Homo sapiens: one gene and its partner. The protein of the gene in region 1 interacts with the protein of each later gene in a biochemical or structural test. Each region holds a gene or a part of one and is shown on either strand. Other genes may lie near its edges.

Region 1 (2,639 bases):
CTTGTTTTATGTGTTTATACTTAAAGACACCTTATTTAATATATATTGCTGATCATTAACACTGAGCTCATGGCCCAGGCCTGAAGACAGCTGATCTGACACATGTGTTTTCCACAAGGCATGTCTTAGCCCTCCTGTGCTGAGGAACAGCATTCTGCTTGGGGGCCATGTTAATTGGCAATGATTGTGCCTTGGATAAACTGCATTTTGGCCACTGCACAAAGCTTGAGGGCCTTTTTAAACAGCAGAATTTCTGTAGCACGAAGTAAACATGTGAACAGGATGCTTGTTTACAGGATGAGGCTGAAATGAAAAGGCGGGGTAAGTGTCACCTTGTTCCACTGCAGCTAGGGATGTGTGTCAGGCAACTTGAGTTTGTCATCATTCTGTGTGTCCAAGGACCTTAAAGTGGTTACAAATGAAGTTTGGCAGTGAAGCCAGTTTACAGATATGTAATCTGTGAATGAGATCAACTGTACTTTATTGTGGATTGATAAAATCTCTGATATTGAGGAGGAGCAGAAAAGCAAAGAATTTGTGACACGGTAGACTTTGTTAAATTTTATTTAAGGGCTTGACATTTGCATTTAAGGCAGCCGTAAGTTTTTATTCATTGCATTATACGACTCCAACAAGCCTGTCCAGCCACCCCCATGGTGCTTTGCACGTTCAAGATTTCACCCGAACTGATGAAACCCTTTCCCAAATATTTTGTAGGTTCCCTGTGCTTTTTAGATGCACTTTCCCTTCTCGCTCACTCTTCCATTCAGCAGAAACTTGCTAAACACCTTCTCTGTCCTGGGCACTGTACCAGGTGTGGAAGATAAGCTCGCCTTGCGGCGCTCGATTCTCTTGCAGCCTTGCACCTTGGGGGTGTTTAGTAAATGCCGCCTCAACACAAAGGATGCCACATATTTTACAGAATAAAATGGAACGGGAGCAGTCGCCCAGTTAATTGAGATTTCAACACAAATACTTGAGACAAGTTTTCATTGTTTTTAGTGTCCAATTATTACCATTATGGACTCACTCATCTTGCATCATCCTCCATAATTTTTCTCATACATTTAAAATACAAAATAAGGTCTTAAAAAGATGTAAAATGCCAACAGGTGAGGCTTTAGGGGAGAAAATACCTAAAGGTGATTGGGGTGGGGGTGGTGGTGGTGAAGGAGGGCTGCGCCTAGGAGAGAGCTGTGTGGGAAATGGGGCTGATGAGAAATGCCTGGGGCAGGTACCCGAGAGTCGGACGCTCAATTCCAACTTGTCACTTTTACGTAAACCAGACCTTCCAGCATGAGGCAGCTTTGCACAATGATGGTATGGCGTGCGGGTAGGTTAGTGAGGGAAGTACTGCCTGTTCTCCCGCCAGATCCCAGCACTCTCAGAGGCTGAGGGTTCTAGGAATTCATGGTGAGTTAAGTAGCTGCGGTGAGGAACTAGCTCAGCAGGGCCTGGGGCAACGTGCATTAGAGGTAACCTTCGCAGGAAGCGGAAGGGCTGACATCTGGGTCACATGCAGAGAATGTAGATAATGTGCACTATGTAATAAATGTCCATGCCTCTTCCCTCCCCATTCCATGCCAGGGTTAAAGACGGAACACAATTACACTTCTTGGTTGGGTTGGGAGGACGCACTGTTCATTCATTGTATCAGGTCTTCCTCCTCCTAAACTTGGGCCCTGCTTGGAGATACGCTCCATCAAAGCACTTGCCCACTACTAGCCTGCCCTGCTTTTATTCCCTATCAGCAATAGAGTTTGGATCACTTAGAACGAAAAGCAACAGGAGGACAATGGATCCAGGAGGCCTCTTAACTGCACATGTGCTGCCTGGCCTCGAGGAGACAGGATGGAGAGGTACCTTCTTTTTAGCCCTTTAGACTTTATTGGCCTAGATATCTACCAGGTGAGGTCAGATGTGATCCTGGATTTTATAAAACTCAGACCTTGGTAACTGTGGTAAAAGCAACACAGCCAATTTTTAGCTGGGGAGGCAGGAGTGAGTCGGTGGAAGGGCTTGGTAAGCAAGGTAAAGAACAGGAGGTACAGAGACCAACCCCCACCACCCAACCACCTGTCAGAAAACACAGAGAAGACATTTGCCTGCCTTTCAAGCTTTGCCAAGGATACAGGGACTTGCTTCCTCCAGATTAGTCACAATCCAGGAGACTATAGCAACTGCTTGGTCTTTTCCTGGTCCAAGTGTGAACTTTCCAACCTGATAGTCTAAGTATTTTCCTCTGGCTCGCAAATCTCGGAGGAGCAAATCCAAAACTGACTTCCTGTAGGTCTTGATAAATTGTTACAGAAGTACTGGAGGATGCTTTCTATACCCATGTTTCTAAATCTGGTTATTTTCTTTCAAAGCCTCCATCTCCTACCACTCCCTCCCCCCATTTCATTTCCCTTCTATTCCTTCTCAAGCAAGATGTATTGTCTTAAACAAATTGTCTAACAATGGAATTTCACCTTTTCTCCCCAACTGAAGCATCTTTCAGGGCAGGTTCCTATCTATTTTCCCTTCCACGGGGCCTAAGAGGTATTAAATACTAGCTTGATAAGTGATGCTATGGACTGAATGTTTGTGTCCCTTCAAAATTCATCTGTTGAAATCTTAACCCCCAAAGTGGTGGTGTT
Region 2 (3,013 bases), on another chromosome or scaffold:
GTGGCCGGCAGGGCTGGGCAGGTCCTTGCTGGCTCAGCCTGCTCTTTGCTCCTTCATGGGACCCCAGTGGATCCTGCAGTTCTGCTCTTGGCTGGAACCACGCCAGCTTCGCTGGAGCTGGACTGAGCCGCCTTTTACATTATTGGACTCTCTCGGGTTGAGAGCTGCCCAGGACTCCTGCAGTTTCACCACCCTTGTTCCTTTGACTCTTGACTCATCATTCATGACCGTTAACGTGGTTCCATTTGTATGGACTTCTTCTTTCTTCAGAGCATTTCAGTATCCTGTTACCTCCCCATGCAGAACAAAGAATACTCCACTTTTGATAGATGGGGTTACCAGGATTCAGGCTACATGGCCTGAGGCAAGGTCACAACATGAGTGACAGAATGTGTCCTGGAAGCCAGGCATCCTCTGGGGTGTATTTGGGGCGCTCAACAAGGCTTGATCGAGCTTTGGGGGTAGATCTAGCTATTCCATGGGGATTCTTTTCAGAATTGCTGTTTTCGGTAACTAATTCCATGACCAGGTCCATGGCATTGGATGACATTGCGCTACACTGTTGCTCACCCGGGTCACCCGTCCTCACAGGTTGGATGGCAAGCATGTTGTGTTCGGTCACGTCAAAGAGGGCATGGACGTCGTGAAGAAAATAGAATCTTTCGGCTCTAAGAGTGGGAGGACATCCAAGAAGATTGTCATCACAGACTGTGGCCAGTTGAGCTAATCTGTGGCCAGGGTGCTGGCATGGTGGCAGCTGCAAATGTCCATGCACCCAGGTGGCCGCGTTGGGCTGTCAGCCAAGGTGCCTGAAACGATACGTGTGCCCACTCCACTGTCACAGTGTGCCTGAGGAAGGCTGCTAGGGATGTTAGACCTCGGCCAGGACCCACCACATTGCTTCCTAATACCCACCCTTCCTCACGACCTCATTTCTGGGCATCTTTGTGGACATGATGTCACCCACCCCTTGTCAAGCATTGCCTGTGATTGCCCAGCCCAGATTCATCTGTGCCTTGGACATGGTGATGGTGATGGGTTGCCATCCAAGTGAAAGTCTTTTCCTTGACCAAGGGGGACAGTCAGTTTTGCAAAAGGACTCTAATACCTGTTTAATATTGTCTTCCTAATTGGGATAATTTAATTAACAAGATTGACTAGAAGTGAAACTGCAACACTAACTTCCCCGTGCTGTGGTGTGACCTGAGTTGGTGACACAGGCCACAGACCCCAGAGCTTGGCTTTTGAAACACAACTCAGGGCTTTTGTGAAGGTTCCCCCGCTGAGATCTTTCCTCCTGGTTACTGTGAAGCCTGTTGGTTTGCTGCTGTCGTTTTTGAGGAGGGCCCATGGGGGTAGGAGCAGTTGAACCTGGGAACAAACCTCACTTGAGCTGTGCCTAGACAATGTGAATTCCTGTGTTGCTAACAGAAGTGGCCTGTAAGCTCCTGTGCTCCGGAGGGAAGCATTTCCTGGTAGGCTTTGATTTTTCTGTGTGTTAAAGAAATTCAATCTACTCATGATGTGTTATGCATAAAACATTTCTGGAACATGGATTTGTGTTCACCTTAAATGTGAAAATAAATCCTATTTTCTATGGAAGACTGGTACCTGGTTTCTGGAAGAGGGGTCTGTGACTTGGAGCTGATCTTTACTGAGCTCGCCGTGGCAGATGCCATGCTCAGGACGTTCATGTGGATGGTTTCATGTCATCGTGCTGGCAACTTGTCCTCCCTGCCTTAGAGATGAGGCTCAGACAAACGACCTTAGCACCCATAGCCTATGCCATGAGCACTGGCTCCACCCTGAATCCCAGCTCCTCCCCTTAGTGACCCCAAGTCTGTTTCCCTCAGCTGCATAAGGAGGCGATATAGTTTGAATATTTGTCCCCAGCCAAATCTCATGTTGAACTGTAATCCCCAGTGCTGGAGGTGGGGCCTGCTACGAGGTGTTTGGATCATGGGGACGGGTATTTCATGGCTTGGTGCTGTTTTCTTGATGGTGAATTATTGCAAGATACGGTCATTTAAAATTGTGTGGCACCTCCCCCTGCCCCCTTCTTGCTCCTGCTTTCACCATGTGACATGCCTGATCCCCCTTCACCTTTTGCCATGGTCATAAGCTTCCTGAGGCCTCCCTGGAAGCTGAGCAGATGCCAGCACCATGCTTCCTGTACATCCTGCAGAACCATAAGCCAATTAAACCTTTTTAATAATAAATTACTCAGTCTCAAGTATTTTTTTATAGCAATACAAGAATCCTAACACGGGTTAACAATAAGGCCCACCTCGTAGGGTGGTGATCCACGTGAAGTGCATAACGCAGTGTCTGGCGCACCTTCCTAAGCACTCTGGAGTGACAAGGATGATGACCTTTCCCCTGTCAGGGTCTTAGGAAGGAGGAGGGATGCCAGAGCAAAGGAGCCTCCATCATCTGAGGTTAGGAGTGGACTTCCTAGGATAAGCCAGTTCCATTTGGAATTGACTTCTAGGTGTTTCCAAATTCACAGGGAAGGCAGGATTGGAGGTAAGAGCTTCCCTAGGTAGACAGGGCTGTGGTGTGGCCCGGCAGTTGAGTGGTCAGGCAGGCAGTTCTCAGAGGAAATTTGGGCCCTTTTGAGGGCATCTAACAGAATTATTTCTCACTGGGGTTCCCTGAGTGAGGTTATGTGTAGTCTTAGGTTAATGGAGTCACTCTGAGGTCATGGTGACTGGGGTCGGGTCATTTGGAGTCATGGAGAGTTCCCATGAAGTCAGTTTCAGTAGGACAAGTAGTCTTAAAACAATTATCAAGAGCGTTAAGAGTCCTCAAAGCAGACAAGGAGGACACAAGGAGCATGGGCCCCTGAACCCCATTTGCAGTCATAGATGCCCTCCATTTATATTGGGGTTCTGTAAGGGATTTCATTTGAAGAATAGGATCTTGAGCCAAATCATAATTAGTAATTTCTCATCCAGTCCAACACTTTACAGATGGGTAAACTGAGACCCCAAGAGGGATTATGATTGTCCCA

What was found.
Region 2: the proteins of SLC25A4 (region 1) and PPIF form a complex in vitro, tested with the Homo sapiens proteins (one study listed by BioGRID).

The regions. Positions count from the first base shown.
Region 1 is NC_000004.12:185,148,292-185,150,930, reverse strand, and holds the end of SLC25A4 (ADP/ATP translocase 1), read right to left. Parts: 3' UTR 549-2,639; downstream 1-548. UniProt on the Homo sapiens protein: ADP:ATP antiporter that mediates import of ADP into the mitochondrial matrix for ATP synthesis, and export of ATP out to fuel the cell.
Region 2 is NC_000010.11:79,353,116-79,356,128, forward strand, and holds the end of PPIF (peptidyl-prolyl cis-trans isomerase F, mitochondrial precursor), read left to right. Parts: intron 1-529; coding exon of another isoform or gene 530-591; coding exon 592-727; 3' UTR 728-2,219; downstream 2,220-3,013. UniProt on the Homo sapiens protein: PPIase that catalyzes the cis-trans isomerization of proline imidic peptide bonds in oligopeptides and may therefore assist protein folding. Involved in regulation of the mitochondrial permeability transition pore (mPTP).